Linked DNA regions of Homo sapiens: regions 1 and 2 are each linked to region 3. Evidence: fine-mapped expression QTL. A gene starts in region 3. Each other region holds a variant in brackets. All regions are shown on one strand. Distances are between the middles of the regions. Region 1 overlaps SNRK (SNF related kinase). Region 2 overlaps ANO10 (anoctamin 10). Region 3 holds the start of SNRK-AS1 (SNRK antisense RNA 1).

Region 1 (4,247 bases), 32 kb before region 3:
CATTTCAGTCTGAATCAAAACCACCATCCTCACTGTGGCCAACACAGCCCAAAAGATTGGCATCTCCATTTCTTCCCAGACTTTCCTCTCACTACCTTCCTGGTTGCTCCTTCGGCTCCAGCCACGCTGCCTCCTTGCTGTTAGGCACACTCCAAGCCCGGTCCTACCTCAGGGCCATCCATCTCCCTCCTCTGCCTAGCCACTCTTGCCCCTGATTTTCTTGCCCACATGTCACCCCTCAGTGAGGCCTCAGCTTCTTCTCCAGAGGTGTAGGGCCCCAGCACTGCCTGTTATCTTTCCCCACTTGACTTGCATCTCTGGGCTCTGTTACCTCCATTTGTGAAATGGGGTTCATAGTTCCTGCCTTTAGGATTATTGAGGGGATTAGATGAATGAATACATGTAAAGTACTTAGCATAACGCCAGACACAAAATTAGCCCTCAGTCCATCAGATGTCACTGTCTCAGTGCTGCTGCTTTGGGAAACGTCATGGGATGCTTTATGTTTCTATGGTGTTGCTGCTGTGGTCCCAGAGGGACACTTAACATTAGATCCTGGCCTTATTTTCCTTTCCTGCCTCTTTCTCAATGTGGGAGGAAGAGTATCCGAGGTACCCTTGTCCCCTTTGGAAATTTGTCCTCGGGAATTTCTGAAATGTTGGCTGCCGTGGGAAAATGGGGAGGAAGGGCAGGCCTGGGACCTTTGCTCCTGTGGTTTTCTCACATGTTTTTAGTTGTATTTAACTTTCAGAATGTTATGTTATTTGTATTTAGGGAATAGGTTAACTTCTAAAGTAGGGATTTTTCTTTCTTTTTTAAAATGTTAGATAAAAAAAAATGAAAGTCTTGGTGTTTATTTGATAGCAGGTTAGTTTCTTAGAACTTCAGAAGGGCTTTTCAAACCACTCAAAACAGTAGCTATTTTAGTACAAAAATACATATGGAAGCTGAATCAACTTACATTCACCTTAGGTCATAACATGGGAAACCTTTAGGGAGTTGAAAATATTAAATTTTCTTTTTTTTTTTTTTAAACTTTTTGAGGTAAGAAATGTATGCCTGTTGAAGAAGAAAGATAAGTTTGCAAGACAAAAAAATCAGCATTAGAGCAAACTTTCTAACACAAATTTGGAATTGTGTTATTCGCATTGCATGTTGCCGAACAGACTGAACTGTTAAAAGTTGTTTTAGCGTTTTAGAATGTACTAAAGAATCGAGTCCGGCGTGGTGGCTCATGCCTTTAATCGCAGCACTTTGGGAGGCCGAGGCAGGTGAATCACATGAAGCCAGGAGAGTTCGAGACCAGCCTGGCCAAGCAGATGAAACCCCATCTCTACTAAAAATACAAAAATTAGCCAGGCGTGGTAGCGCATGCATGTACTCCCAGCTACTCAGGAGGCTGAGGCAGGAGAATGACTTGAACCTGGGAGGTGGAGGTTGCAGTGAGCTGAGATCGTGCCACTGCACTCCAGCCTGGGCGACAAAGCGAGACTTTGTCTCAAAAAAAAAAAAAAAAAGAATCAGTTTGTTTGTTTATATGCAGGCTGCTATGCTTGATCACTCTCTTGTGCTCACTGAGATGGGCCAGGTGGGACTAGTTAGTGACCGGTCTCAGTTCCTGGAGAGTCCCTGTCCCAGCATGTTAGGAGGTTGCATGTGTGGTCATCAGGTTGATCTATTAGCCTTATATAGGGTTGTAATAAGAAAGTATTTCTAGTGTAGTGTAAACAGTGCCTAATTTAATATTTTTAAAATTTTAATTTAGAATTATTTTAAACTCTGAAACCTAAGAAAAAACATTACAAGTTCTCAGCCTTTGTAATACTGTATCTGGTAAGTCGGAAAACAAGACCTTTTAGAGTGAGACGCTCTTCGTAGATATATCGAA[A/G]TCTCGGCACCTGGAATGCAGCCAGGCACAGAGTAGGCATACTATTTTGCTGGGTGTAAAAATAAAAGAGGGGCTGTGGATGGCTAAAAAAGGAGGATGATGAAGTTAGGAGAATGCATGCCCTGATTGCTCTTTCTCTTTGGAATTGGATGGGGCGGTGCCAAGCCTGCCTCACTCCAGATGGCTCACTTGTCCCCCTTGCTCAATAGTAAGGTCCTTGAGAGAGGGGACCATGTGTTTGTTTATATTTTGTCAGTGTCCTGTCACCTGGCAAACGTAACAAGCTCATAATATTTATTTAAATTAATGTTAACAGAGATGAACCAAGGAAATGAAGATTACATTAATTGTGGTCACCCTCTGTGGCTCTTCCCAATCTCTTTGCTGATGTCGTAATTCCTTTTCCTTGCCTTGTATCTGTTATATTTAATGAGTCCTAGACTCTTAGAGGACCCAGTGAAAGCTGTGATTCCTGTTTTCAGAGAGATACAAACATGCATTTTGGGTTAGTTTCAGAGGTGTTTATTGAACACTATGAAGCCCTTTTTTGGATCTGATCTTGCAAGCTTATGAGGTTGAGAAACAAGTGGACCCGCAACTATTTGGATGAACACAAACAGTTTTGAAATAAGCTTTGGAACATAAAATACACATGTAAAATAGTGTTCTTATTTTTGTGCCTTTGAATACGTGACTCATTCATTGCTGTTTTATATACTAGATCTCCCATTTTCCCTATTGTGTTTTAAATTTCATGGATATGACTTGAGTAGGAGATTGTAATGGAAAATTGGAGGTAAGGTTATAAATGGGTCTGTTTCCAAAGGAAACATCAAGTCATTGGGTACAGTATTCTTTTTATTTCCTAAAGTCAGACAGACTTGTAGATGTTTGGTATATTTTATATGGTTTTCTTAAAAACCCATTTTGTATAACAGAGTTCGTATGCGTCAACTCTCCACTGACATTTGGAGGCCCTTGTTAGGGTTTAAGAGAAACAACATGGATTGGGAGCTCCAGTAGGTGGAAGGAAGCCCCTGAGATGGTGTGACTGATTCATCACCACGTTCCAGGTTGTGATTCTCAGCTTTGTATTCAGTAGTGATTAGTTTCTAGAGGACTGAAACTGGCTTAACAAAGTGTTTTGTATATATACTAATGAATACACTAGAACACCAATCAGTTGATTTACAATGAGACGTATTAAATGTTAGTCAACGCCAAGCTTGTATTGTATCAGAGTAGCTGGGTTTTTTTTTTCCCCAAATTTACCTATTTTCAGAGTTTTAATAAGATATTCTACCAAAAAAGCCTGTTTATTAGTGCATAATGTAAGTTGATTAGGTTTAATCATTTTTAGGAACATTTGTGATCCATTGAAACTCCTGAGGTCACACTTTTAAGATTCTTATATGAATTTTTGCTTTAGATCTAGAAAGGGCTCTTCATGACTTTGAATTTTAGCTCATGTATTCCTGTTACTCCCAAAACTTTACAAACATGATTTTTTCAAGGTTTTTTTTTTTTTTTTTTAAGTTATTATAGCAGAACCTTCATTTGGCTGAAACCCATTATGTTCCATCTGGAGGCAGAAGATTCTCTTGGTTTTAGATTAGTTCTAGTTTTGTACTCAGTTATCAGTTTGTGAGGTGAGGTACCTTGCCCTGTATCCCATTCAAGGCTGTATTATCAGTGTCAGTAAACAACTTCATAAGAATTTCTTGGGTTTACCATCTAGCTTCAGTATCAAAATGAATTTATTAATTAGTAGAGGCAAGAATAGAGAGAGAACTTGAGTGTCCCCTGACTTTGTAACCTTTGACTCTTCCAGCTGTTGTCAGGAGAACAAAGGGGACAGCTTTTCTTATGGTAAGGAGTCTTTCCAAAATTGTTTTTATGTTACTTTATGTAAGATAAACAATCTTCAGAATCCTTAGCTATCCATGAATCTTACCAATTAGAGGACTGCCTATTGATCATTTACCAGTTTTTGAGTTGTCCTAAACCCAGGAGAGCACCAGGAGGCAAGCAAATAAAGACTCCTGGTAGATGAAATGGACTGTCCTAAGTGCATGTACAAAGCTCATGTATTTTGCTCGTAGCTGTCATTCAGGGTCTCACTCAGACCCTTATTTAGTTAATTTTACGTATAATTCTAGCAAGTTCAGTAAATTCGTATTTCCAGCTGTCAGCTGATAGGTAACAGGGACCTCCTAAAGTCAAGTGCCCTGACTGATAGCAGCAAGATGAGAAAGAATCATGAAATCATCATCAAAAACTTAAAAAACACGGTGTGCGCCTCTCCTTGCCACCTGAAGTCCGAGTGTTTAACAGTGCTTATGGGCACCTCTGGAGGTAA
Region 2 (4,247 bases), 140 kb after region 3:
AAAGAGCTTCTGCACAGCAAAAGAACCTACCATCAGAGTGAACAGGCAACCTACAAAATGGGAGAAAATTTTCGCAACCTACTCATCTGACAAAGGGCTAATATCCAGAATCTACAATGAACTCAAACAAATTTACAAGAAAAAAACAAACAACCCCATCAAAAAGTGGGCGAAGGACATGAACAGATACTTCTCAAAAGAAGACATTTATGCAGCCAAAAGACACATGAAAAAATGCTCATCATCACTGGCCATCAGAGAAATGCAAATCAAAACCACAATGAGATACCATCTCACACCAGTTAGAATGGCAATCATTAAAAAGTCAGGAAACAACAGGTGCTGGAGAGGATGTGGAGAAATAGGAACACTTTTACACTGTTGGTGGGACTGTAAACTAGTTCAACCATTGTGGAAGTTGGTGTGGCGATTCCTCAGGGATCTAGAACTGGAAATACCATTTGACCCAGCCATCCCATTACTGGGTATATACCCAAAGGACTATAAATCATGCTCCTATAAAGACACATGCACACATATGTTTATTGTGGCATTATTCACAATAGCAAAGACTTGGAACCAAGCCAAATGTCCAACAATGATAGACTGGATTAAGAAAATGTGGCACATATACACCATGGAATACTATGCAGCCATAAAAAATGATGAGTTCATGTCCTTTGTAGGGACATGGATGAAATTGGAAAACATCATTCTCAGTAAACTATCACAAGAACAAAAAACCAAACACCGCATATTCTCACGCATAGGTGGGAATTGAACAATGAGATCACCTGGACACAGGAAGGGGAATATCACACTCTGGGGACTGTTGTGGGGTGGGGGGAGGGGGGAGGGATAGCATTGGGAGATATACCTAATGCTAGATGAGGAGTTAGTGGGTGCAGTGCACCAGCATGGCACATGTATACATATGTAACTAACCTGCACAATGTGCACATGTACCCTAAAACTTAAAGTATAATAGTATAATAAAAAATAAAAATTAAAAAAAAATCTGTTTTTGGCCACTCTCTGAGCCTGCATTATTTTTATAACCTTAAGGTGGTATATAAGCTTCTGTACCTTACTGAGGGGTTGGATCTTCATTCTGAAAGTTCCCATGTACACGTTAAATAAATCCGCCTTTTCTCCTATTAATCTGCCTTTTGCAAGTTGATTTTTCAGTGAACCTTTAGAGGGCCAAGGGGAAAGCTCTCCCTTGGCCCTTAGGGTGACCAGTGAAGGAAGACACAAGGGGCACAAGAGGATGCAGCAAGTTTTCACAATAAGACTAGGAGATTACACAGTTAGACAGAATGAATTCGTCAATAATTTCATTTCAGGTGCTCAGAACATATAGTTCAATTAACTGGTATTGAAAGTGCATGGCAGAAAAAAATATTTCTCTTTTCTTTTCTTTGAGCTAGAAGACTAGTTTGCTACAAAACAGTCTCTTTGCCTGGTGAAAAAAACAAGGGGTAAAATTTAAAACCTGTTTTTTATCTCATGACCATTAGAGGCCCTGATTTAAGAAAAAAAAAACTATCTTACAAAAATCAACAACTATCTAAACATTTACAAATAAAAATCTCCTTTCACTGAAGAAGTATTCTGTTATAACGAATCACTGGAAAAGAATAAGCCTGTAACAGTATCCTTTGCATCAAAATAATGCCTTAAGGGTTCAGAAGTCCTTGAATATTATTTCTTCTGATCCTCACAGCAATTACATCAGGCCGTTCTCAACGTGATACATGGATGATGGAAAAACAGCCTGAAGTCAGAGAAGGCTTACGTAAAGTCACTCAGCTTATAGGAGACAGGGCTACAGCCAGGCTTTGACATTTAGCCCTGGCCTCCCTCTTTCTGATAAATCCAGTTTCCTTCCCCTTCTCAGATCTCCAACTACGCCACAACAAAAGTCTTGCATGGTGTGTGTGTTCCTCTCCTCTCTAAATATTCCCTCCTGTTGCAATAAGTTTCCAGCCTAAAAATGTGAAATTTAAAAACTTTTTATCTAAACACAAGTGAAATAAAAAGCAAAACAATGAGATAACCAAAAACCTGGCAACTTGGAAGAGGGGGAAGAAAAGTATTTTAGAGGACTCCTTTTAAAACAAGGTCATATTTTAAGATCATAATAGTGAAGATTAAAAACTCAGTAATACTCCACAGCCTTATTAATATAG[A/G]GCAGTAGGCATCATCACAGAACAGATACTTGCTATGTACTCAAACTGGTCTAGACCATAGAAAAAGATGGAAGGCTCCTCCTAATTCATTCTAAAAAGCCGGAACACACTTAATACCAAAGTATGACAAAGAAAAACAGAAACCAATTTCACTTACAAATATTGATGCAAAGATTCTAAATCAAGTACCGGCAAATAGAACCCAGAAGTGAATTTGTTACAGTAGGTAGTTAGTCAGGCATGAGGAGGGCAGAAGGGTGCTCCCAGCACCACCCCCACACACACACCTGGAATGTCAGGTGACCATCAGGTGATGGTCAGGCGGTTGCTGACTCTCTTTCTAAAATAATAATTGGCCACAGCCGGTGCCAGGGAAAGGCAGTCTCCTAATAGATAGAGAACACCTGAAACTGGTGAGCAGCAGCTTCCCGATAAGATCTCAGGAGTTGGACAAGTGGGCTCAGGCATGCATATTAAGAGGCAGAATGGCAGGGGGGCGGGGTTTAAATGGCATATGACCTTCCAGGGACATTTGACTGGTAAGGACCTCAAGTGAGCATGCGTACAACTCCAGTAAACACACTGTGCATGCTCATCTCCCAAGCACTAGTAGGCTGCTGTGCATGTGGACATCTCACCTCAAGCGAAGAATCAGAAGGAATCCAAGACCCTGGAAGTATGCCAACATACAAAACCCTAAGTCAGGCCAGACACAGTGGCCTCATGCCTGTAATCCCAGCACTTTGGGAGGCTGAGGCAGGCAGATGACTTGAGGTCAGAAGTTCGAGACCAGCCTGGCCAACATGGCGAAACCCCATCTCTACTAAAAATGCAAAAATTAGCCAGGCGTAGTGGCAGGCACCTGTAATCCCAGCTACTAAGGAGGCTGCGGCACGAGAATCGCTTGAACCAGGGAGGTGGGGGCTGCAGTGAGCCAAGATTGCGCCATTGCACTCCAGCCTGGGGGATAGAGTAAAACTCCATCTCCAAGAAAAAACAACAAACAACCCTTAAGTCAAAGGTCAAACTGCACACTCCATCTCACAAGTCACCTGCTTGGACCTCTTCCACCAAGTGTACTGTACTTCCTTTCATTCCCACTCTAAAGCTTTTTAGTAAACTTTAACTCCTGCTCTAAAACTTGCCTCGGTCTCTCCTTCTGCCTTACCCCTTGGTCAAATCCTTCTGAAGAGGCAAGAACTGAAGTTGCTGCAAACCCATATGGATTCACCACCAGTAACAAATTAACAGAAAAATATACAGAATATGATATAATATAATAATATAACATGGTTTATTTCAGGAATGCAGAGATAGCTTAAAATTAGCAACACTATCAACATAATTTATTACGTTTTTAAGTGAAAAGATAACCATAAATTAAAACATAAAGGTTGGAAGATGGCCAAATAGGAACAGCTCCGGTCTACAGCTCCCAGAGAGATCAAAGCAGAAGATGAGTGATTTCTGCATTTCCAACTGAGGTCACCAACCTCAAAGACCAAAGGTAGATAAAACCACAAAGATGGGGAGAAACCGAGCAGAAAGGCTGAAAATTCCAAAAACCAGAACACCTCAGAAAAAACCAGAGGCCTCAGAAATAACACCACACATCTACCACCATCTGATCTTTGACAAACCTGACACACACAAGCAGTGGAGAAAAGATTCCCTGTTTAATAAATGGTGTTGGGAAAACTGGCTAGCCATATGAAGAAAACTGAAACTGGACCCCTTCCTTACACCTTATACAAAAATCAACTCAAGATGGATCAAAGACTTAAACGTAAGACCTAGGACCAGAAAAATCCTAGAAGAAAACCTGTCCAATACCATTCAGGACATAGGCATGGGCAAAGACTTCATGTGTATAACACCAAAAGCAGTGGCAACAAAAGCCAAAATTGACAAATGGGATCTAATTAAACTAAAGAGCTTCTGCACAGCAAAATAAACTATCATCAGAGTCAACACGCAACCTACAGAATGGGAGAATATTTTTGCAATCTTTCCATCTGACAAAGGGCTAATATCCAGAATCTACAAAGAACTTAA
Region 3 (4,247 bases):
ATATTGCAAATTGCTGATTATGGAAGGGGCCAGTTGCTGTTTTTTCATGCAGTGCCCTGGGAGTCTTAAAAGCAGTGCTTAGCAACATTGGTGATAGCATGTGGCTGGGACCCAGGGCCCTTCCCCACTCTTCAGCCCCGAGTCATGTGTCTGAGGTGACGGACTGAGACGCATCTGGTCCTGTAATTCAGAGAGTGGGCACATCACCAAAGAACTGCATTGCTGTGGTCACTGTTTCTTCAAGTACACACTGACTCTGCTACTTTAGGATAAATATATTTTACTCAGAACTCTGAATTTCACAGTATACTTACTAAACTAAGTAAAAATGATACTTAAAATACTTATTTTACTTTCTAGACCTAGGCTAGATGTTTTAAGCTACAGCTCTAGTTCATTGTGATATTTATAATTTGAAAGCTATGAGAATAGATGTGTGGGTGAAGCCATAGAACATATTTGCTTGAAATTCTTGAGCAGGGATCTTATAAAGGGCCAGAAATAAGATGTGTGGTTCACATAGATAGTGAGCGTAACATCTGTATTAAACATAGGAGAGAAGTTTATAAAGGGCATTGGCAATAAACTCTTTGTTGCAGCTGTTTTCCAAGCAGTGTAAATACTTTTTCCTGTGATTATGTATAGCCTTGGAATGGCACCTTTTAACTAACCCATATGTGTTTGGTTTCAATGGTTTTTTATATTCAGATGTATATATGGTGCTCACTTTAGGATCAGCAGTGTTGACCATTTATGCTGCATAGCTGTATTATAGCCTTATTAGTTGTGTGGTTGACCCTTGGGGTATACAAATGTCAGTCTGAGTGGTGTCTTACTCCTTTGTTTATAAGTGAATGATTGTGCATGTTTTGTATGTCATAGTATGTCGTCACATAAAAGGGAGGGAGCGAAAAACCATTACATTAAGATAATATTGGACCAAACTACTTACTTGCTCTAAACAGTTACTTGTACCCCTTAACCTGTCTTCAAAAGTTGCATATAGTTACAGTAGTGTATAAATTAAATATTGTGGAAAAACAGTCTTGTATTTTTCTGTATGTGTGTATATATATATAATTATGTACTTCTGGCAATTCTATCTGTATTTAAAGATGTGACAATCTTGACACCAATTTTAAGAATAGCTGTGAGACCGAATTAAAGATAATCCCTACCAAGTGAAAATTGATGTGTGTTAAGAGGGTACAGAATTATCAACTGATTTGGTCAGTTGCTTCCAATGCTGGTTGATTTCCCTCATTGTGTAAACATTGACAGGTATGTGACAAATGGGAAAAAAAATCCAAATAATAAAGTGACATATTGGTGTTCAGCAATATAAACCGTGTCCTGTGTTGTATTGCTTCTCATGAGTGTAGCTTTGTGTGATCCCACCTCAGTTAGACCCAGCCTTCTCCATGCCCTGTGCCTGCACCACCAGATTTGGCTGAAAAAGTACAGTCATTATTATGTTTAAACTCATGGCTACAAATCATAGGTGGGGCCAGGGTGCCCATTAAGTATACTTACTTTATTTCTCTATTTCATCTCCTTTCCTCACTCTGCTGGTCACCATGCTGCCTAATTGAATAAAGGGAAGCAATGAGAACTGCCACAAGTTCCCACCTCTGCCTTCCTCCCTTCCTTCATACACATTCACATGCTCTGCCCTTCCTCCTGTTACTGTGATTCCAAGGTCAGCTACTCTTACTCAGTTCTCACAACCATTACCATAATTGACTTTTACAACCCCCCCCCGCCCGCCAAAGAAATCTTGTGCCCTTTGGCATACTTTACCTTGTCCGCAACTCCCTTTACTCCAGCCTCATGCAACCACTTCCTGTGATCAATTTTCAATCCCATGTTAGAATTTGATGAATTGCTCACTTTCTTCCTTATGAACTTCCCATCTTTCAGTATCTCACTTCTGCCTTGCTGCTCTTCATGTCCACTGGTCCTTCCTCATTCTTCCAACCTCTAAATTTGGAATGTCCCAATGTTCAATTCTGGACCCCTGCTCTATCTGCAGTGACTCCTGATCTCAGTTAGTCTAGTATCTATATGCTGATAGAAGCCCAAAATATATTTAGCCCACATACCCTGGGAACACTGGATTTCAACTATCTATTTGACTTTTCTTCTTGGATGTGTCTGTGTGTCTACAGCATCTCAATTTTTACAAGTTCAAAACCCCTAATCTTTCCCCTCAAATCCTTTTACTAGCGCACCCATCTTAATAAATATCAACTCCTAGCCTTCAATAGTTTCATTCAAGCTGAAAATCTTGGTGTCATCCACTTTTTCATCCCAACATTCAGTTTATGAGCAAATCTTAACTTGCCTTTCACAGTTGACTCCTTCTCATTGCCACCACCACTACCACTCTAGTCCATGACACTCAACTGTAAATGCCTCTTAAAGGGTTTCCCTGCATTTGCCCTTGTCTTTCTCATTTATTTTCCACTTAGCAGTATGAGAGATCATTTTAAAGGCTAAATCATACCATGTTTTGAAACGTGTTTAGTTTCCAAATATTTGGGGTTTTCCCACATAGGTTTCTATAATTTTTAGTTTAATTCTATTTTTATCAGTGCATGCTTTCTATAGTTTAAATCTTTTGAAATTACTGAAACTTGTTTTATGGCCCAACATACGACCTATCTTGGTGAATGTTTCCTGAGTGCTTGGAAAGTGCTATTGGTGGAGTGTCCTATACATGTCAGTTCGTTCAAGTTGGTTGATAATGTTCAAGTTTTCTATATTCTTACTGATTTTCTGTCTCAATTATTGAGAGAGGAGTGTTGAAATCTCCAACTATAGTTGTGGATTTGTCTATTTCTCCTTTTAGTTCTAGCAGTGTTATTTTAGAAAATTTGAAGCTCTGTTGTTTGGTACATAAGCATTTAAGATTGTTACGTCATATCAATGAATTGATCCCTTTCCTCATGAAATGTTCCTTCTTTATGACTGGTAAACTATTTGTTCTGAAATCTACTTTGTGTGATAGTGATACAGTAACTCCAGCTTTTTTTTGACTTGTGAGAATATATCTTTTTCCATTCTTTACTGTTAACCTATTGTGTCTTTATGTTTAAAGTTTGTTTTTTGCAGATATCATATAGTTCGAGCTTGCTTTCTTATCCCATCAGCAAATGTCTGTCTTTGATTGAGGGTTTAGATGTATTACATTTAGTGTAATTGTCAATATGGTTGAGTTTAAACCTACCTAGTTTTCTATTTGTCTCGTCTGTTCTTTTTCCCTCTTTTGCTACCTTGTTTTGGTTTAACTGAGCACCTTTTGTTACTCCATTTTATCTCCGCTATTGGCTTATTGGCTGTAACTCTTGTTTTTCAGGGGGTGCTATAAGATTTGCAATACATGTATTTTATTATATCACAGTCTATCTTAATATATCACTTCATGTAGAATATAAAAACCTTACAACTGTATGCCTCTATTTTCCTCTTCCTGTTCCTTATACTACTGTTGTCATACATTTTATTTTTGTATATGTATAAATATTGTTTTAACTAGTTTTTAAGGGATTAAACAGGGGGGGGGGGAGTATTTTAGCTACATATTTGTCATTTGCAGCACTCTTCATTTCTTTGTGTAGATCCACAGTTTGGTTTTCCTTCTGCCTGTAGAACATTCTTTAACATTTCATATAATGCAGATCTGCTGGCATTACATTCTGTCAGCTTTTGTTTTGAAAAATTACTTTTCCTTTATGAAAGATATTATCATTGGGTATAAAAATTCTTGATTCATTTTTATTGCAATGCTGGACACTGAATTTTGCATTGTTGAATGCTGGAATTTTTTGTATTCGTGTGAGAAGTATTGGATTTCATTTTGGACTGCAGTTATTTAAAATCATTGGATCCTTCATGTCTCACTTTTAAACTGTTAGGGCAGATCCTGAGCAGTCTTCAGTCTAGGGCTAATTTGGCCCACTACTGAGGCAATACCTCTCTAGGGACTCTATTGAGGCTTTTCTACTCTGGCTGGTAGGAACATGAACTATTACCAGCCTTGGGTAAGTTCTGAGCATTGTTCAGCCTGCTGCTTTCCAGTGGTTCTTTCTCCAGCCTCAGGTAGTTTTCTCATAAGTACTGATCAGTACTCAACCAAAGACCACAGATTTTCTTTTGGAGCTTGCTCACTATCTGTGCAGCTCCCTCCTCTCTGCCCTGCACATTGATCTTGAACTTCAAACTACCTGCTCAACTCAACCAGACTA

The links. PIP is the estimated chance that this variant, and not a neighbour inherited with it, causes the effect.
Region 1: its variant is the best candidate, but not a certain one, in a credible set for the expression of SNRK-AS1 in whole blood (TOPMed, PIP 0.74).
Region 2: its variant is the best candidate, but not a certain one, in a credible set for the expression of SNRK-AS1 in thyroid (GTEx, PIP 0.66).

What each region holds. Positions count from the first base shown.
Region 1 is chr3:43,317,528-43,321,774 of GRCh38, forward strand. All of the region lies in intron 3 of SNRK (SNF related kinase), which reads left to right. Among named protein-coding and RNA genes, the nearest start is that of SNRK-AS1, 32 kb to the right of the region's middle. The variant A/G (reference allele first, on the strand shown) is at 1,889.
Region 2 is chr3:43,488,335-43,492,581 of GRCh38, forward strand. The region is part of intron 11 of ANO10 (anoctamin 10); the gene reads right to left. Among named protein-coding and RNA genes, the nearest start is that of ANO10, 130 kb to the right of the region's middle. RefSeq lists an enhancer at 2,526-3,026. The variant A/G (reference allele first, on the strand shown) is at 2,193.
Region 3 is chr3:43,349,798-43,354,044 of GRCh38, forward strand. SNRK-AS1 (SNRK antisense RNA 1) reads right to left here and starts at 2,165. Exons shown (of 3, transcript NR_046757.1): 1 at 1,801-2,165; 2 at 1,534-1,584; 3 at 1-180. SNRK (SNF related kinase) reads left to right here. Exons shown (of 7, transcript NM_017719.5): 7 at 1-1,346.